Homo sapiens: one gene and its partners. The protein of the gene in region 1 interacts with the protein of each later gene in a pairwise test. Each region holds a gene or a part of one and is shown in the gene's direction. Other genes may lie near its edges.

Region 1 (7,027 bases):
AAGTTTGGTAGTACTTTTTGGCCGTTTGATATTTAACTCCGTTTCTTTTTTTTTGAGACGGAGTCTTGCTTTGTCGCCCAGTCCGGAGTGCAGTGACGTGATCTCAGCTCACTGCAAGCTCTGCCTCCTGGGTTCACACCATTCTCTTGCCTCAGCCTCCTGAGTAGCTGGGACTACAGGTGCCCGCCACCACGCCTGGCTAATTTTTTTTTTGTATTTTTAGTAGAGACGGGGTTTCACCGTGTTAGCCAGGATGGTCTTGATCTCCTCACCTCATGATCTGCCCGCCTCAGCCTCCCAAAGTGCTGGGATTACAAGCGTGAGCCACCTCGCCTGGCCCTAACTCTGTTTTTTTCTTTTTTTTTTTTTTTTTTTTTGAGACAGAGTCTCACTCTGTTGCCCAGGCTAGAGTGCAGTGGCACGATCTTGGCTCACTGCAACCTCCACCTCCCGGGTTCAAGTGATTCTCCTGCCTCAGCCTCCCGAGTAGCTGGGACTACAGTCACATGCCACCACACCCAGCTAATTTTTTGTATTTTTAGTAGAGACAGGGTTTCACCATGTTCACCATGTTAGCCAGGATGGTCTTGATCTACTGACCTCATGATCCGCCTGCCTAGGCCTCCCAAAGTGCTGGGATTACAGGCATGAGCCACCGCGCCCGGCCCTTAAACTCCCTGTTTCTAAACAACATGTTTTTGTTGCTGTTTCTTATTTTATCTCTCGTCAGTTTTAGACGTTGTTCAGACGTATATGGCACAGGCAGCTGTACTTCTCCAGTGGCCCCCACACCCTCACATGCCCTCACCTGGCTCCCCCATCTCCTGGCTGTAGGTTGTTAGAATTTGTGGTGAGACCAGTGATGGGACTTCCATTGGGCAGCTGTGTAGGTACTTTAACACTGAGCCATGCCACCTGCTGTGCTTATATGACCTCTTTGGAATAACTTTGTGTATTTCTTAGAGTTACTCATGGCCCTGTTTGTTGGCTTTGTTTTCTGCATTCGACCCTTGTCTCCCCAGCTGGGCTTTTCCTTGTGGTCTGTCAGGCTGTCTACCCTGACAGTTCTGTGTGTGCTTTCTTTCCGCAGAGCCCTCTGTCCTGGAGGCCACAGTCCTGATTGTTTCCATGCCAACTGCACACTTGTTGCCCTGAGGTTTTCCTGGGATCTCCTTTCACCCCTCTTCAGTGTGGGACCCTCTTCCCTGAATCTTAAATGTCTTCTTTTTGCCCTTGCTCTCCTGTTTTGATAGAGCCTTTCCTTTGGTAGGTTCCTGAAAAAAAGGCACATAGGAAGGTAGATTTTCTTGGCCAGGCACGGTGGCTCATGCCTGTAATCCCAGCACTTTGGGAGGCTGAGGTGGGCAGATCACCTGAGGTCAGGAGTTCGAGACCAGCCTGATCGACATGGAGAAACCCCGTCTCTACTAAAAATACAAAATTAGCCGGGTGTGGTGGCGCACGCCTATAATCCCAGCTAATTGGGAGGCTGAGGCAGGAGAATCACTTGAACCTGGAGGCGGAGGTTGCACCTGGAGATCGCACCATTGCACTCCACCCTGGGCAACAAGAGCGAAACTCCATCTCAAAAAAAAAAAAAAAAAAGAAAAAAAGGAAGGTAGATTTTCTTGTAACATTGCATGTCTGAAAATGTGTTTGTTCTAGCCTCATACTCAGCTGATAGTTTGGTTGGGTATAGAATCCTAGGTTGACAATTGTTTTCACTCAGGAAGTTGGCGACATTGCTGCCTTGTCTCCTAGCTTCCACGTTGCTGCAGAAAATCTGGTGCCGTTTGGATTCTTGGTCCTTTATATGTGTGATCTATTTTTTTTTTGTTATTCCTATTCAGAAGCTTTTGAGATGTTTCCTTTATCTCTGAAGTTTTAAATTTCATGATAATGTGTTTTGGTGTGGCAATTTTTTTTTTTTTTTTTTTTGAGATGGAGTTTCACTCTTGTTGCCCAGGCTGGCGTGCGATGGCGCGATCTTGGCTCAACACAACCTCTGCCTCCCAGGTTCAAGTGATTCTCCTGCCTCAGCCTCCCGAGTAGCTGGGATTACAGGCATGCACCATCATGCCCAGCTAATTTTGTATTTTTAATAGAGATGGGGTTTCTCCATGTTGATCAGGTTGGTCTCAAACTCTCAACCTCAGGTGATCTGCCCGCCTTGGCCTCCCAAAGTGCTGGTATTACAGGTGTGAGCCACTGTGCCTGGCCTGAGATTTTTTATTCATTATGCTGGGCACAGGTTTGTTTTTTTTGTTTTGAGATGGAGTTTCGCTCTTGTTGTCCAGGCTGGAGTGCAATGGCACGATCTCAGCTCACCGCAACCTCCGCCTCCCGGGTTCAAGCAATTCTCCTGCCTCAGCCTCCCGAGTAGCTGGGATTACAGGCATGCGCCACCACACCCTGCTAATTTTTTGTATTTTAAGTAGAGACGGGGTTTCTCCATGTTGGTCAGGCTGGTCTTGAACTCCTGACCTCAGGTTCATCCACCCGCCTTGGCCTCCCAAAGTGCTGGGATTACAGACGTGAGTACCACACCCGGCCTGGGCACATGTTTTGCAAGACTGAGATAGCTGTGTTTTTTTCCTTAGGTACAGCATCTTGACTAGGGAATACAGAGAGTTATTTTATTGTGAAATGTAACATATATTCAGGAAATGAATGTGCAACAATTATAGATTGCTTAACAAATATTACCAGGTGAACCTCTCTGTTGTCTGCTACCGAGATGGAGAAATCAAGCCCTTTGGCACCTGAAGGCCTTTGTGACCCTCCTAGTCATGACACCCCTCCCCAACCAAGGGGTGACCATCCTGAGTTTGGTGACAGTCACCTTCCACCTTTAACAGTAGTTTTCTTTTTTTTTTCTGAGACGGAGTCTCGCTTTACCATCAGGCTGGAGTGCAGTGGCACGGTCTCGGCTCACTGCAACCTCTGCCTCCTGGGTGCAAGTGATTCTCCTGCCTCAGCCTCCTGAGTAGCTGGGACCATAGGCACGTAACACCATGCCCAGCTAATTGTTGTATTTTTAGAAGAGACGGGGTTTCACCACATTGGCCAGGATGGTTTCCATCTCTTAACCTCGTGATCCTCCTGCCTTGGCCTCCCAAAGTGCTGGGATCACAGGCGTGAGCCGCCGTGCATGGCCTTCAACAGTTTTCTTTTGTTTTTTTTTTTTGAGATGGAGTCTCACTCTTTCGCCCAGGCCGGACTGCAGTGGCGCTATCTTGGCTTTCTTCAAGCCCCGCCTCCTGGGTTCACGCCATTCTCCTGCCTCAGCCTCCCGAGTAGCTGGGACTATAGGCACCCGCCACCACGCCCGGCTAATTTTTTGTATTTTTAGTAGAGACGGGGTTTCATCAAGTTAGCCAGGATGGTCTCGATCTCCTGACCTCGTGATCTGCCCGCCTCGGCCTCCAAAAGTGCTGGGATTACAGGCGTGAGCCACCACGCCTGGCCTAGTTTTCTTACCCCTCTAAACTGAAGGGTTAAGAGTTGTGTCTGTTTCTGCTCTTCATATTAATGGAATCATCCAGTATGTTTTCTTTTGTTTCTTGCTCTTTTTGCTCCGTGTCACCTTCTCTGGGAATCATCCGTGTTGCTGTGTGTGGCTGTAGTTTGCTCTTTTTGTTGCTGAGTAGCACTCTGTTGTCTGAAGGGACCACAGCTTATTTCTCCATTTTACTGAGGATTGGACATTGGGGTTGTTTTCTGTTTTCTGCTCTTATGAATGTTTCCCGTGTGGATTTCTTTAGGTGACATAAGGTTTGTTTAGGGTATTTAAGAGTAGTGTGTTCTTTCTTGACTGCTCTACCGGAAAAAAAGAAAAGGGAAAAAAGAGTAGTATGCCAGGTCATAGGAAAGGTGGCTACAAGTTATTCATACAGGATGTTTGAGAGTCGAAGAAGGCACTGTGACCACTTGCTGTGTAACATTCAGAGCTGGGACTGTCCTGGGCACGTTGCCGTAAAGTCTGCACATTCACACGATCCCAGACTGTTTGTGCAGAACGGTTCTGCCCACTTGCGCTCCCACCAGCACAGCGTGAGTTCATGTCAGCCTACATCTTTGCCACAACTTGGCGTTGGCTGACTTTAGTTGTTGCCAGTCTGGTGAGCACATCATGGTGTCTTGTGCAGGGCTAGCTTTTCCCCCATTTCTCCATCAGATAAGAAAGCAGAGATTGACATCCTGGCTGCAGAGTACATCTCCACGGTGAAGACGCTGTCTCCAGACCAGCGCGTGGAGCGCCTGCAGAAGATCCAGAACGCCTACAGCAAGTGCAAGGAATACAGTGACGACAAAGTGCAGCTGGCCATGCAGACCTACGAGATGGTGAGGGCGGGGCGGGGGCCATGGCTCTTCCTCTGACCTCTACTCCTGCCTCTCATGCAACAAAATGTAAAAACTGCCCGGAAATGGGCATAGCCAAGTGGAAGGCTGGCTTTGGTAGCTGACGCTGCTGGAGGAAGTGCAGACGGAATACACTTCATGTAGGACCATCCCTGTTTTTTTTTTTTTTTTTTCTGGGCCCTTTTTGTTTGTGTATCTGCTCGGAGGAACCATTTGGGTTTTTTTTGAGACAGTCTCACTTTGTCGTCCACGGTGGAGTACAGTGGTGTGATTTCAGCTCAGTGCAACCTCCGCCTCCTAGGCTCAAGTGATTCTTGTGCCTTAGCCTCCCTAGTAGCTGTGATTACAGGCATGCAGCACCACACCCAGCTAATTTTTATATTTTTAGAAGAGACGGGGTTTCACCCTGTTGGCCATGCTGGTCTCGAACTCCTGACTTCAAGTGATCCACTCGCCTCAGCCTCCCAAAATACTGAGATTACAGGCATGAGCCACCGTGCCCGACCTCCAGGTGGCCATATTTTATTTTATTTATTTATTTTATTTATTTATTTATTTTTGAGACAGAGTCTTGCTCTGTCGCCCAGGCTGGAGTGCAGTGGTGTGATCACGGCTCACTGCAACCTCCACCTCCTGGGTTTAAGCGATTCTCCTGCCTCAGTCTCCCGAGTAGCTGAGATTACAGGCATGCAGTAGCCATACTTTATTATTATTATTATTTTTGAGATGGACTTTTGCTCTTGTTGCCCAGGCTGGAGTGCAATGGTGCTATCTCGGCTCACTGCAACCTGTGCCTCGCAGGTTCAAGCAATTCTCCTGCCTCAGCCTCCTGAGTAGCTAGGATTACAGTCACCCACCACGAAGCCTGGCTAATTTTTGTAGTTTTATTTTTTTATTTTTGTATTATTTATTTAGTTTTTGAGACAGGGCCTCACTGTGTCGCCCAGACTAGGGTGCAGTGGCATGGCTGCAGTTCAGTGCAACCTCCACTTCCCAGGCTCAAGCGATTCTCCTGCCTCAGCCTCCTAAGTAGCTGGGATTACAGGTGTGCACCACTACCAACAGGCTAATTTTTGTTTTTGGTTTTTGGTTTTTTTTTTTGAGACAGAGCTTCGCTCTTGTTGCTCAGGCTGGAGTGCAATGCCACGATCTTGGCTCACTGCAACCTCTGCCTCCTGGGTTCAAGCGATTCTCCGGCTTCAGCCTCCTGAGTAGCTGGGATTACAGGCATGCGCCACCAAGCCCGGCTAATTTTGTATTTTTGGTAGAGATGGGGTTGCTCCATGTTGGTCAGGCTGGTCCTGAACTCCCGACCTCAGGTGATTGACCTGCCTCAGCCTCCCAAAGTGCTGGGATTACAGGTATGAGCCACCGTGCCTGGCCTGTATTTTTAATAGAGATGGGGTTTTGCCATGTTGGCCAGGCTGGTCTTGAATTCCTGACCTCAAATGATCCACCTGCCTCGGTCTCCCAGAGTGCTGGGACTACAGGCGTGAGCCACCGCGCCTGCCCTAATTTTTGTATTTATTTTAGAGATGGGATTTTACCATGTTGGTCAGGCTGGTTTTGAACTCCTGACCTCAGGTGATCAGACTGCCTCGACCTCCCAAAGTGCTGGGATTACAGGTGTGAGCCGCTGCACCTGGCCTCCAGGTAGCCATATTTTAAAGTAGGGTTCAGCGTCAGATATCCCAGGCCTTGTTCACTGCATTTCACAACTCTGCTTCTCATTATTGCCCACACTCATGTCTTTTCCCTAAATGGGATTTATTCCATTGCAATGTCAAAATATGCAGAAAAAGCACAAGACCCTTGCATGGACTTTGAAATAGTGGGCCTTGTTTTAGCAGAGGTTTGTTCATTGGAGACTCAATTAAAGGGCAAGAAGGTGTTTCCTGGTGGATACTTTTGTACATTCGTGATTCTGAGGTGTTTTGGTTTTACTTTAAAATAAGACTTTGGGTATCCTTTTGTAGGTGGATAAACACATTCGAAGGCTTGATGCAGACCTGGCGCGCTTTGAAGCAGATCTGAAGGACAAGATGGAGGGCAGTGATTTTGAAAGCTCCGGAGGGCGAGGGTTAAAAAGCAAGTCTGTTAATTTTTTTTCTTTATTTTATTACTGTTAACTATGGAGTTTTGAAGAGTTTTGTCACGGTAAATCATTAAAGTATGATCACTAGGGTAAGTATCATATTTGGGTAAACCTTGTCTTGCAGGCTGGGTGTGGTGGCTTACGCCTGTAACCCCAGCACTTTGGGAGGCTGAGGCAGGAGGATCACTTGAGGCTAGGAGTTTGAGACCAACCTGGGCAACATAGCGAGACCTCATCTCAACAAAAAATTTAAAAATTAGCCAGGTGTGGTGGTGCACACCTGTGGTCCCAGCTACTCGGGAGGCTGAGGTGGGTGGATTGCTTGAGCCCGGGAGGTCAAGGCTGCGGTGAGCTATGATTGCTCCGCTGCACTCCAGCCAGCCTGGGAGACAGAGCGAGACCCCTTTTTAAAAACAAAACACAAAACTTGCCTTGCTTTAGAGAATTCTATAAAAATAATTTGCATCTTGATTATTTTTCAGAAGGCCGGGGTCAGAAAGAAAAAAGAGGGTCCCGGGGCCGAGGCAGGAGGACATCAGAGGAAGACACACCAAAGAAAAAGAAGCACAA
Region 2 (7,027 bases), on another chromosome or scaffold:
GATAAGGAGTTCAGCAAAGCTCAGAAGGTACCTCCCTCCACCCACCCATCCACCTACCCATCCACCCTTGCTTCTACCTATCTGACTCATTCATCCCTCCAGTGAGCACCTACAGTGAACCAGACCTAATGTTGCATGCTGTTTTCACGTAGTCATTTAAAGGATTCTCAATGGAATTCTCTTTAGTTGCTAATTTTACCTAATCCTGCTTAATTTAGTGATTAATTTTAATTTACTTTTAATTCATTTCTAATTTCAGTTACTCATTCTCATTCACTGACTTTTAATTAAATATTCAAATCTATCAGTAAATCTACCTCGAATCTGCCTCCCATCCTCTACTCACACTCCTGCCTTGTGCTCCTACTTCCCATCTCTGTCCTGGTCCAGTTGGGAAAATGAGAGCAAACCCACCTCTCAGATCCTCTAAAGATGAGATAGGATATAACCTATTGTGGCCCCTCAAGACATTCGAGGTGCTCCTTTGTCACTGCTCTGTCCCCATATCTAGCCATACCTAGCACAATGTTAATACATAATATGTGCTCAATAAATATTTGTTGGATGAACGAATACAGTATGCAGAAAATCCGACAGTCAGGAAGCTGCACTTCTCTTTGGTAGGATGCTGATTCCCCTAAGCTGGCAATGCTCTTGGCTGCCCAGTAGGGGAGCGACAGTTTCCACACTGCGTGGGAGGGACCCACAGAGACATGTATGGACAGATGTAGCAATGAAGCCACAGTTTCTGAGTCTGGAGATCCAGCCCATAAATGGTTAAATACCAGGGCATCTCCCTACCTCCCCTGTCCCCCCACCAGCCTCAAGAGCTTCCAAGAAAGGATGATTTATGTGTGCTGGGGCCCCAGGGCAAGACTTGCATTCATTCACTCACTCACACACTCATTCCATCATTCCTTTGGGCTCCAAATTGTCACACATGTTCTGTGGTTGAAGATGCTCCCATCCTGCAACCCCTGTCATCCTTGTCCTCCCAAAACGCTTGGCACAATTGTCTCCATATCCTAGTAAGGCAGTCCATCTCTGTTCACTTTAGCTCTCTTCCCACCCACCCCCACTTTAGGCACTGAGCAAGAGCAAGAAAGCTCAGGTAAGGGGATCCCTTGTGGGTGAGTGTGACTGGGAGATGTCTTGGTGGGCTATTTCTGTATGCTGATATTTCCTTGTACTGGCCTTTCTTTCTTTGTGTGCCTTTACATCTGCTACTACCTCACTGCCATGTGTTGCTGTATCTGTCCTTGTTTCCCTGTATTTGTCCTAACTCTGTGTCTCTTTCCTTCTCTCTCTTTCCATTCTTTTCTCTGAGTCTCTTTCTGTCTCTGTCTGTTTTCCTGTTCCTGTCTCTCTGACTCATTTCTCTTCCCAATCTTCTCTTTGTCTCTCCCCCTCCTGTTCCTGTCTCGGTGATTTCTCTTTTTTCTGCTTTCTCTCTCTAACTCCTTGTTTCTTCCACCCCATTCCTCTCTCTTCCTAACTCATTTCTTTTCCTGACCCCTCCTCTTCTCCCTGTTCTGTTCTCTCCCTGTTGATTTCTGTTTGTTCTTCTCTCCGTCTTTTTCACTCTCTCCCTCCCAATCCCTCTCCCCTTTTCTATCTCTCCCCCTTTCCCCATCTCTACTTCCTCTCTCCCCAATCATTATCTTCCTGTCTTTTCCTCCGCTCTCTTCCTCCCTGTATTCCCTTCTCTCTACCTTCCCATGTCTTTATCTTCCTTTCCCTGTCTCTCATTTTATCCCTCCCCATGTCTCTTTCTCCTATATCACCTCATTCTCTGTACCCTATGTCCTCTCCCACCCATGTCATTTTCTCCCTCTCTCTGTTTCTTTGCCCTACCTCCCTATCCTTTTTGCCCTTGCTGGAGTCCTGGCCCTTGTCTGCCACTGCAGGAAGTCGAGGTATTGCTGAGTGAAAATGAGATGCTGCAGGCAAAGCTGCACAGCCAGGAGGAGGACTTCCGTTTGCAGAACAGCACACTAATGGCCGAGTTCAGCAAGGTGCTGGTGCCTGGGATAGTCAAAGGGGAAATGAGGGGTAGGGGTCATCTGGGCTGAAACCTAACAGCGGCAGAGAGTGATTGGACAGGGTCTGGCCCTGGAGCACTGTCCGTGGTGCTGAAACAGGTCCTGGATTGCTGCTGGGGGGCAGTAATTTGACAGATGGGGCCGCTCACTCTGCTGGGATTAGAAGGCTTTGAGCCCTGAGGTCACCTGGTTCCTGGCCAAGTCACTCCTTTTATTTGAGCTTCAAGTCTCCATGTGTATAATGTGGGGTTGATGCTGTGGTGCTCCAAGGTGTTGGGGGGTTTTAGGCAGAGTTCTTATGCTTAATATAGGATGGAAAAGTGTTCGAGCTTCTTCCCTTTTCTCTTTCTTCTCTTCATCTGACATGAGCCTGGGGTTCTACCTCTTCCAGATAATTCATCCTGGAGCTACTAATTCTATCTCCCCATTGATTTTAGTGTCCTGTCTGTTTCTAAATCTACTGGGCAGTTGGAGACATTGTCTTTTGTTCCCTCATCTATCTTCTGTATCCACAGTTGATAATTGTCTATGTTTTTAGTGTGTTTTAAGGAAAAAAGTCTCATGGCAGCAAATTTTTTTGAGATGGAGTTTCACTCTCATTGTCCAGGCTGGAGTGCAATGGCATGATCTCAGCTCACTGCAACCTCTGCCTCCTGGGTTCAAGCGATTCTCCTGCCTCAGCCTCCCAAGTAGCTGGAAGTACAGGCATATGCCACCATGCCTGGCTAACTTTGTATTTTTAGTAGAGATGAGAGAAAATGACATGGGTGGGAGAGGACATTTAGTAGAGAAAATGACCATGTTGGTCAGGCTGGTCCTGAACTCCCGACTTCAGGTGATCCACCCGTCTTGGCCTCCCAAAGTGTTGGGATTAAAGGCGTGAGCCACCGCGCCCGGCCCAAAAATGGTATTTCTAAGGCTCCATCTGAGAATATAGTGCCTATGACCTTAAAAAAACAAAACCGAAAATAACCTTTAAGCAGGTACAATACCAGGAGAGGCAGTTGAGCAAGTAGTAGGTACCAGCAGGGACTCTGGAACCAGAAGGCCTAGATTAAAATCTTGGCTCTACCTTTTACTAACTGTAACCTTGAGGAAGTTACTTAACTTGCCTGGTTCTTGGTTCCCAAATGTTTAAAATGGAAGTCATGATAATAACAGTACCTGCCTCTTCACAGGGCTTTTGTGAGGATTAAATGAATAAATGTACGTAAATCACTTAAAACAGAGCCTTGCACATAGTATCAGCTATGGAAGCATTAGTTATAATATTATCCTTCTATTAACTCATCTTCCCTCTAAAATATTTGACTTTTTAAAAGTTTTATGGCCGGGCGTGGTGGCTCAGGCCTGTAATCCCAGCACTTTGGGAGGCCAAGGCAGGCAGATCATGAGGTCAGGAGATGGAGACCATCCTGGCTAACGTGGTAAAACCCCGTCTCTACTAAAAATACAAAAAATTAGCCGGGTGTGGTGGCACGTGCCTGTAGTCCCAGCTACTCGGGAGGCTGAGGCAGGAGAATCGCTTGAACCCGGGAGGCGGAGGTTGTAGTGAGCCAAGATTGCACCACTGCACTCCAGCCTGGGCGACAGAGCAAGACTCTGTCTCAATTTAAAAAAAAAAAGTTTTATATCCACCCTGTGGCCCTGCTTTGCCTTAGCCTCTACCACTTATCATCTGCTGTTTCTACAGCCGCCTCCCTGGTCTCTTCACTTCTAGTTTCTTCTACTTAGTTCACACCACAGAGGCTGTTCTGACCTGCAGATCTTATGACATCACTCCTTTACTTAATACATTCCAGTGCCCCAGTCCTGCTCCTAGTTCAGAGCCCCTGGTATTCACATAACTGCTGGCTTCACTGACTGACTCCTCACTGCTTCCTGCCTCCAGCCTCCATGGTATCATGATTCTTGCAGAGTGAGGCAGGGGCAGACATTCTTCCATAAATCCAGCTTGTTTCCCTGCATCTGCCCTGGGCCAGCACTGGGCTAGTCGTAGAGACTTCCTACATAGTCCCCTTCCTCCTCCAACTCCTCCCAGGAACTGGAAGTGCTCTCAGAGAGAGCTACGTTAAACCTGCCACCACCCCTTATTCATCAAGACATTTCAGCTTAATTGTTCCTTCGACAAATAGTTACTGAGTACCCACCACATGCTCTATGTTCTGGAAATACAGTTGTAAGCAGCACAGAATGATCTCCACTCTTGGGTAGCTTACATTCTGGGGGTGGGATGAGGAGAAAGATGATAACAGTAAACAAATAATACTAGTAGTGATAGCTGACATTTATATGGTGCTTACTGTGTGCCAAGTCCTGTTTGAAGTACTCTACATTATTCACTCATTTAATCTTTGAAATAAGCCTATGAGATATTAGTATCCCTATCTGACAGATGAGGAAAACTGAGTTCCAGGGAGATTAAGTAATTTGTCACACAGCTAGTAAATGGCAGAGCAGAAATTCACATTCAAGCAGTCTGGTTTCAGAATCTGTGCTTGTTACAAAAGAAAATTTTGATTAGTACTAGGTAAGAAAGAAATGAACAGTGCTGTGACAGAGAGTACTGGAATTTTCTGTGTTGAGGGATACTACTTTAAAGGCAACATCTGAGCAGAGCACTGAGGGATGCAAAGAAGCCAGTTAGGTGAAGAACTGGATGAGAGGATTGGTGTTCTGGGTAGAAAATATTGCAAGCAGGCCGGGTGCGGTGGCTCATGCCTGTAATCCCAGCACTTTGGGAGGCCGAGGCAGGTGGATCACCTGAGGTCAGGAGTTCAAGACCAGCCTGGCCAACATGGCGAAACCCCGTCTCTAATAAGAATACAAAAATTAGCCGGGCACGGTGGCGCATGCCTGTAGTCCCAGCTACTCAGGAGGCTGAGGCAGGAGAATCACTTGAACCCGGGTGGCGGAGGTTGCAGTGGGCTGAAATCGTGCCACTGTACTCCAGGCTGGGTGACAGAGCGAGACTCCATCTCAAAAAAAAAAAAAAAAAAAAAAGAAAGAAAATATTGCAGGCAATAAAATAAAAATTCTCTGTAGGCCTCGATATTCTCATCTGAAAATGGGGACAAGGAATTTTCTCAGGACTGCTTTGAGAAGTGTACTTCAGCCAGGAGTTGGGCAGGGGGCTGGCTTAGTTGTATTGGCATTGTATACCTCTCCAAGACTAACGGCTGGCAATGCAGGAGCTGTCATCAGTGTTGGCCCTGGAAATGCCCTGCGAGCTCTTTGTGGTGCTTAGGATGAGAGGGAGCTATCTCTGGGCCCAGGATCCAGCCCTCCACAGAAGAGGGGTTGCAGTGAGGCTGTCTGTAGCACTAACAACTTCCAGAGGAGCCTGAGGTCTTGGATTGCATCTCTGAGGTTGGGAGTAGGAAGAGGAAAATGGTTTTTGGTGTCCTCATACTTGGTATGCTCTTGGTATTCTCTGACTCTGCCACTTAAAAGATGTGTGAATTTGAACTTGTTTAACATCTCTGTGCCTCAATGTCCTTATTTGTAAAGTGGGAGGGCACCTATATCATAGGGTCATTATGGGAATTAAGTGAATTGTAAAGTACATGGACAAATGCTATGTAGGTTTCAGCAAATACTGCTCTGATTCTCTGCTTCTCTGCCCCTTCTCTTCCTCTGTTCAGCTCTGCAGCCAGATGGAACAGCTGGAGCAAGAGAACCAGCAACTGAAGGAGGGGGCTGCAGGAGCAGGGGTTGCCCAAGCTGGGCCCCTCGTGGATGGGGAGCTGCTGAGGCTACAGGCTGAAAACACAGCCTTGCAGAAGAACGTGGCAGGTGCATAGAGGCCCTCCTGGGGATGCGGAGACATTGGGGCTTGAGTAGGGCAAGGAAGGCCGTCATCCTCTCAGGGGAAGGAGAAGGGCTTCAGAAATAGGGTTGGCCCATGCCCTGTGTGGCTTTGGACAAGCCATTTCACCTCTCTGAGCCAAAGCCTTATCATCTACACAGTGCATGTAGTGATGTCTGTCACCCAGAAGATTGTAGTAGAGATAAAAGGTGATATCATTCTGCATTAGTTCAGTGTCTGGTACCTAGCAGATGTTACAGATTAGCAGCTTGAATGTCAAAAAGGAGATATTTGCGGCCGGGCGCGGTGGCTCACGCCTGTAATCCCAGCACTTTGGGAGGCTGAGGCGGGCGGATTGCGAGGTCAGCAGATCAAGACCATCCTGGCTAACATGGTGAAACCCCGTCTCTACTAGAAATACAGAAAATTGGCCGGGCACGGTGGCGGGCGCCTGTAGTCCCAGCTACTCTGGAGGCTGAGGCAGGAGAATGGTGTGAACCTGGGAGGTGGAGCTTGCAGTGAGCCGAGATCACACCACTGCACTCCAGCCTGGGCGACAGAGCGAGACTCCATCTCAAAAAAAAAAAGGAGATATTTGCTAAGTGAAAAAGTGAATGGAGTGTTGGGAAGATTCTGAGCCCAGATTGTAAGTGGGGTCTGGGATGAAAGCTGAAAGAAAGCTTGATAGAGTGTGGGAGCATGTGGTGTGTGGAACTTTGGAGAGCAGCTGGGACTTCTGTGGTGATGGATGCTGGTTCCATGACCAGGAGGGAGACTTAGTAGAATGTGAGTAGGAATTAGGAGGCTCTAGGAGGGATTCAGCTGTAAGTCAGTGGTAGCATATGGTGGGCATGGCCTTCAAGGGCTATGGGTGGGGCTTCAAGGATTGAGAATGGGATTTGTGAAACCAGCTTGGGCTAATTTAATAGTAAACAGAATCTTAGTGGTTGATAGGGCTTAAAATATTTGTGAGAGCCTGGGCACAGTGGCTCATACCTTGATTCCAGCACTCTGGGAGGCTGAGGCAGAAGGATCTCTTGAGGCTAGGAGTTTAAGACCAGCCTAGGCAACATAGCAGGAACTTGTGTGTACTAAAAATAAAATAATTAGGCCAGGCACGGTGTTTCACACCTGTAATCCTAGCACTTTGGGAGGCCAAGGTGGGCAGATCGCCTGA
Region 3 (7,027 bases), on another chromosome or scaffold:
TGAATTCAGGTATGCCTGGCTCCAATCCCTGTGTTCCTTCCTACATTGGAAATGGATGGCAATGAGATGCAGGGAGCAGCCTGCCTGGTATCCATAGCAGAGCCAGGTTAGGATTCTGGGTTAAGTATGTGTTGGGTCCCTGGTGTGATGATAGCACTAAGAGCTAAGATGCAGATTGAAGATGTTGAACCTAAGGTTGGGTCCCAGATATCACTTCACTCCTACAAATCCAAGGCCATGGAGTCATTTAAGAAACAGACCTTGTCTTTAAAGAACTTAGAATTTAGTAAGGAACAGTAGAACTTGTTTGGGTATGGTGTAATTACAACCCCCCAAGTTAATGAGAGTTTTTAGAGGTTTTCCTGAGGTACTGTTCCACTCATCACAGTAGACATGGGTCCACACACTGCCTACCACGGTCTCCAAAGCATGGAGACCCCAGGTTGGCATTGCCTCAGTCCCACATGCTATTGAGAGTTATGTATAAATCTAGATCATGAATACAATAAAACTTCATCATCAGGGACTTGTTATGTAGCTTATTAAACCATGTCATCTACATATACAGTAATGTTTTGTGGAGCAGCCTACATTTAACAGATACCTATTTAGAGTCTACTGTGAGCTACTTACTGGTCTAGGCACCAGGAAGGTAGCAGTGAACAAAATAGACAACTTCTTCTCAAGGGGCTTATACCATAGTGGAAGAGACAGATAATAAACGTATAAATTTGTATCATATGGTGATATGAAGAAAAATAAAGCAGGCTAAGGGTGGGAAAAATAGAGAGTGTGAATGGAGTGGTCAAATAAAGATACTTTGGTAAGGCAGCATTCGAGCAGAGATTATATCTGGGGAAAAGATTACACAGAGCAGGAGCAGAAAGTGCCAAGGCCTATGGTGGGAGCTTTCCCACAGAACATTTTCAGTGTGAGTGAATCAATATTCTCTGATATCATGGTTATAACCGGGTTTGATGTTAATTTATCCATGATTTCTTCCAATTATAGGTGTTTGTATTTGTGCCATAATAATCTAAACTCCTTGTAATTGAAACTCAATTTTATGTTTGTTCTTTTTGTTTTTAAAGTGTGTTTCCAGAACATAATTATAGAATAAGTGATCCCTTTTATTGGCCTTTTTAAGAAAACCTTCTCTAGGTTTTGCTTTGTTTTTGTTTTCTTATTCATGAATTTCTACTTACTAGTTTTCCCTTTTATGGTTTATTCTATCTTGTTCCCATGGGTTGAAAAATGTGCTTCAGTTATTTTCATGATTTCTGGATTTCATGATTTCTTTAAATAATAAAAGCATGTAAGTTTCCTCCTGAGCACAGCTTTGCTGCCTGCCATAGGGTTAGTGTTCTCACCATCATTTTCTAAATAATCTATCATTTCAAATTTGATATCTTCTTTGACTCAAGAGATATTTACAAAATGTAATTTCAAGGGGCATTTAGTTATCTTTTTATTATTACTTTTTAATCTTTCTACTGTCATAGTCATAGGATATGGACTATATGATTTTGACTCTGTCAATTTCACTAAGATTATTCTTGTAGTCTATTGCAGGATCAACTTTTATTAATGTCCTTTGGGTATTTGAAAACACATGTATGTTCTCTTTTGGTTGAGTAAAAAGGCTAAAAAAGTTATATAATCAAACATTTTAATTGTTGTTATTATGTTTAACTTGTGTTTTTCAAGTACAGTTACATTAATTTTTGTTTATTTGATCTGTCAAATTCTAAGGAAGATCTTCACTATAATTGTAGTTTGTCTAGTCCTTCTTGTATTACTAACAATTTTTGGTTTACATATTTCAGTGTTCTGTTGCTTGATGTGTCAAGGTTTATGCGTATATCTTCTCAGCATATTATATGATTAACATTATAAAATATAGCACAAGTATAAACTAATGTTTTCTGTTTTAATTCTACTTTGCCTGATATTAATATTACCATCCCTGCTTTCTTTTTAGTTTACTTTAATCAATAATATCTTTGTTCATCACCTTGTTTTCAACCTTTTTTAGGTCATATCAAGTTTTTCTCCACATATAAATAGCATATGGTTAGATTAACAAATAGAGGCCAGGTGCAGTGGCTGACGCCTGTAATCCCAGCACTTTGGGAAGCCAAGGCAGGTGGATCACCTGAGGTTGGGAGTTCAAGACCAGCCTGACGAACATGGAGAAACCCCGTCTCTACTAAAAATAAAAATTAGCCTGGTGTGGTGGTGCATGCCTGTAATACCAGCTACTCAGGAGGCTGAGGCAGGAGAATCATTTGAACCCGGGAGGCGGAAGTTGCAGTGAGCCGAGATTGTGCCATTCCACTCCAGCCTGGGCAACAAGAACAAAACTCCATCTCAAAACAAAAACAAAAAACAAAACCCAAAAAACAAATAGGAAGCATAGCTGGGGAGACCTCAGGAAACTTACAATCATGGCAGAAGGCGAAGAGGAAGGAGGCATGTTTTATGTGGCCAGAGCAGGAGGGAGAGAGAGAGAAGGGGGGAGTTGCATCTCCTGAGAACTCACTATCACAAGAACAACAAGGGGGAAGTTCGCCCTCATGATTCAGTCACCTCTCACCAGGCCCCTCCTCCAACACTGGGAATTACAATTCGACATGAGATTTGGTTAGGGACACAGAGCCAACCATATCAGCGGGCTTATTGACAGTGGTCTTTACTCCATAGTCATCAGACTAGGCAGTTTCCTTGCAGGACCCCAGGTCACTCTCTTTCAGTCTTTTGTCTCAGGCTAATCAGATTCCAGAGAATTCTAATTTCCTACCTGGAGAGTATACCAGCATTCTGGGAGCTGAAAAGGATGAGGGGGCTGAATTCAGACTTACATTGTTGACCTTAACCCCCCCAGTTTCCAGTACAGTGGTCCTGCCATCTACTGTACCTGGTGTTCCCCAACCCCAGTCCAGAGCCTTTCTGTTTTAGCTTCTCCAGAGAATATGCCTGGATTCGAATGCCAGTGAGGAGATCTAGGAGTCAACCCCTTCTTAGCCATTCCTCCTGTTTTCAGGCTGACACTCACTTGCTACTTCCAGATGTATCTAGTTGGTTTGCTACTTGGCTTTGTCCACTGCTAGTTCCTGTTATTTTTATCCTTCTAGGTTTGACCTTCTAGGTTAAAAATATCCCTTTACTTTGTGTTAGTAGGATTTGGGGAGGGAACAAAATGTGTGTGCATACATCTTCAACCAAATTCTCATTTTTCTCTACTGAATCTTTTACTGTACCTTTTATTCTGTGACTTTTATCTTAGCCATTGATCTCATTCATAGAATCTTGTCAAATGCTTCCTAAACATCTAGGTACTGCTACGTGATCCACCAGATTCTTCTTATCTGCTGTGAAAGTCATTATTTTCAAAGAACCAAGGTAGATGAATATTAAATCATAACTTCTTGCATCTGATTCAAAAGGTCCTTTAAAACTATACTCTTTTTGTGTGCATCTTTCTTAACCCTTAAAGTATTCTTTCCCTCTGAGATATATTAATCATCTTTACTTTACTTACCAGGTTCTTGACTTTATGAATCATAACTTTACTTACCAGGTTCTTGATGAGTTAAACACAGTTTTAATTACAGTTTATAAAATAAAATCTAATTTTTCTGATGTAAGTCAACATATTGGTACCTGAATAAATTATATATTATTTTTGCACATTGAAAATTCTTTTTAAATTTGGTTAATTCCCTTGCTTTCTGGTTAGCCCAGACTGTACCCCCTTACTCTCCCTCTCTTCATACTTTATTCACCTCCCCCCATATACACGTATATTCCTCCCCAGAGTAATCAAACTGGACAAGTTCTTCCAGTTTCTTGTATCTCTGAAGAAGAAACAAAGTAAAGTACATCTGGGTTAAAATCCTGACATGTCAAACTTGACGGTAGACTCTGAAATGTTAGCAGTGCTGAGTGACTGTAGGAATTAAATGCATGTTTTTGAAAGGAAGGAAAGTTATTAGGAAGGAGAGAGAGGGAGGAAGGAAATAAGGAAAGAAAGGGAAGATTTCTACAAGAGACCTAATCAAACTGCTAGTAAGTTTAAGGAAAGATGAAAAAGTACCACTGTGTAGGATAAATTTGCACATACGTTTCACAGGAAAATCTTTACAAAAGATTAGTTACAACATACATTTTCTTAAAAATCTGATATGTGTGAATGTAGATATGTACATCAGGTGCATCCCACCTAACCTGACCTGGTTGTCTATGGTGCTTAGTTGTATGGCACCTTGGAACCACCTGGGACTTTGTGAGCCTCTAATCAGAGCACTGGTGAAACAGAGAAGTGCTAAAAACATGAATATTACAGATATGTGATGAGTGCGTTTGTTCTCTCCCCAAAAGAAAGAAGCAGTCTCATTGGACAGCAGTTAGTATAAAAGTTGTACCCTCCTTGAACTCAAGAAGCAGAAGGAAAAGGAGAAATAGAGACAAAAATAGAAAAGCTGGCAAGAGAAGTAGCAACACAAGTATCAGTGGTAATAAGAACGTTAAGAAGTTGGTCCTATAACACTATAGGCCAGCGTATTCCAGGGGCCCTAGCTCTGTTCAGCAATGTTTTGTCTTCTCTTCTGTCACACCACAGGGACAAGCACAGTGCCTGACATAGGGTAATTATGCAGTCAACTTTTTTTTTTTTTTTTTCCTGAGGCAGGGTCTTGCTCTGTCACCCAGGCTGGAGTACAGTGGTGTGATCTTGGCTTCCTGCAATGTCAGCCTCCTGGGCTCAAGCAATCCTCCACCTCAGCCTCCTGAGTAGCTGGGAGGTACACACCACCAAGACTGGCAATCTTTTTGTTTTGTTTTTTGTAGTGGTAGGGTCTCACTATGTTGCCTAGGTTGGTTTTGAACTCCTGGACTCAAGCAATCCTCCCACTTTGGCCTCCCAAAGTGCTAGAATTACAGGCATGAACCACTGCTCCCAGCTCAGTCAACATTTGTTGAATGAATGAGTGAACTGAAAGAATGACAGCTTATTAAAGGCAATAAACTGTCAAACAACAGGGAAATAAAATATAAATACCAATTTCAAAAGACTAGAGAAGAGTTGAATCAAGAGTTCAGAATTAGATAGAAATGAGGTTGTATAAAAGCAGGGTGTGAAAAAATGAAGAGAATCCAGGACTATTTTCATAGATACACTTGGGGTATTGAGGACTTGCCTTTTTAATTGGAGAATGTATGGGGAATGGTTACATAGGAATGGCTTCAGCCAGGGACAAAACATACCCATGTGCTTTCATGGACTCTCCAAGGGTAACATACTAAGACTCACAGTTTTCACCCTTAAATGTTATTTAAGTTAGGTTGTGTCTTGAAATCAGAAGATACATTTGGCTATTATTCCCTGTTTCCTCTAAAAGCAATTATTAAGTTATTGTTGCTTCTTATAATAGAAAGTGTTATAGAATGACAGAAATATGTTTCACATGTTGCCATATTAAAGCACAAACATATATGGCATAGCCATTTATGGGGAAATCCACTGGCCAACCCATAGTGCCGTGGAGTAACTATACCTATAATCTGTACAAATGCTAGAGTACAAGATGAGCAGCACACAGCTAGGTGCACTATACAATCCATGCAATGAAATGGTTTCCAAATTTTCTCTAAAAAGGAGAAAGGGGAAAATGCAAATACTTTATGCTAATCTTATAAATCTTCAAGTTATACACTACTTAAAATGGTTCAAGAATAGGAAAATAAAAAGATGAATCAACAAAAGAGCTGGCTTATAAAGGACAGCTAGTCAAATTACCCATAGAGGCTATCCATTTATATTAGAAACAGGTGGCATATGAGGCATAATTGGTGCAATGGCCCAGGGACTCAGGAATATCCAAATCTTGCCTCAAATCACCAACAACCCCAAGGGAGACTTACCATAGCAAAGGAACGCAAGACACTTTGAGTGGTAATGATAACGAGGGAACCCACCTTACACAGTGTCGGAGGAGGCCACGTAGGAAAGAGTAATGAGGCATCCCTACCCGTCCCAGCCAAGGTGGTATCAGTGCAGAGCTACTAGGGGCCTGAACTGTCACCCCCACCCAGCAGTAATGAGGAGTTCCTCCCTCCAAGTGGCAACAGAGGCTGAGTCGAGAACCTGAACTTCCACCACTGTCTGGCAGTAATGAGGTGGCATTCTATTCCCCTGCTGGAGTATTGTCAGAAGGGGTCTGCTAAAACACAAAATTCAAATAAAAACCAGAAGCTCGTAATATAATACCCAAGCAAATTAGGGTTCCTATTTTTCTGGAGGTGGGAAATTTAGAGCTGATACTATGGCTCTGCGATGGTATCAGAGACCTCATTGGAGCTTACAGTCTAGTGGAGGGAAACAGATTATAGCAAATAAATAAATCTATATTATGTTGGGGGTGGTAATAATCACTATGTAGAAAAAGTAAGCAGATTATGAGAATAGAGAGTTACAGAGTAAATCTGGTTAGGTGACATTTGAAGAAAGACCTAAAAAAAGTGAGAGATGTAGACATCTGGATATCTGGGGGAATGGCATTCCAGGCAGAGGAATCAGCAAAAGCAAAGCTTCTGCAACAGGAACATGATTGACGTTTTCAAGGAACAGAAAAGAGGCCAGTTAGAGAGGAGGAAGCAAGGGGGAAAGTGGTAGGAGATGACCTCAGAAAGGCAAATAGGGCCAAGTCCTGAAGGGCCTCACAGACCTTAGTCAAGGCTTCAGATTTCACTGTGTAAAATGGGAAGTCACTGGAGGACTCTGAGCAAGGGAGTGACATTTTCTGACTTAATATTTTAAAAGGCTCGCTCTAGTTGCTATGGGAAGAATAGACCATAGGAGGGTAAGGGTTGAAAAGGCAGACAAGCTAAGCTGTGGGAGATGACAGTAGATCAGATTGATAGATGTAGACATAGTGACAAATGGGTTTGTTTTCATGAAATAGCTGACAATGTTATAGATCCTGGATTGGATATGGAGTGTGTGAGAAGATGATGAACAAAGGATGGT

Evidence for each region. The genes of interacting proteins can lie anywhere in the genome.
Region 2: the proteins of ING5 (region 1) and GRIPAP1 interact in binary tests that used the Homo sapiens proteins (3 or more experiments, as listed by UniProt).
Region 3: the proteins of ING5 (region 1) and DEUP1 interact in binary tests that used the Homo sapiens proteins (3 or more experiments, as listed by UniProt).

The regions. Positions count from the first base shown.
Region 1 is NC_000002.12:241,705,039-241,712,065, forward strand, and holds part of ING5 (inhibitor of growth protein 5), read left to right. Parts: intron 1-4,177; coding exon 4,178-4,344; intron 4,345-6,338; coding exon 6,339-6,450; intron 6,451-6,939; coding exon 6,940-7,027. UniProt on the Homo sapiens protein: Component of the HBO1 complex, which specifically mediates acetylation of histone H3 at 'Lys-14' (H3K14ac) and, to a lower extent, acetylation of histone H4. Component of the MOZ/MORF complex which has a histone H3 acetyltransferase activity.
Region 2 is NC_000023.11:48,992,238-48,999,264, reverse strand, and holds part of GRIPAP1 (GRIP1-associated protein 1), read left to right. Parts: coding exon 1-27; intron 28-1,084; coding exon 1,085-1,111; intron 1,112-1,907; coding exon 1,908-2,015; intron 2,016-5,686; coding exon 5,687-5,837; intron 5,838-7,027. UniProt on the Homo sapiens protein: Regulates the endosomal recycling back to the neuronal plasma membrane, possibly by connecting early and late recycling endosomal domains and promoting segregation of recycling endosomes from early endosomal membranes.
Region 3 is NC_000011.10:93,333,742-93,340,768, forward strand, and holds part of DEUP1 (deuterosome assembly protein 1), read left to right. Parts: intron 1-7,027. UniProt on the Homo sapiens protein: Key structural component of the deuterosome, a structure that promotes de novo centriole amplification in multiciliated cells.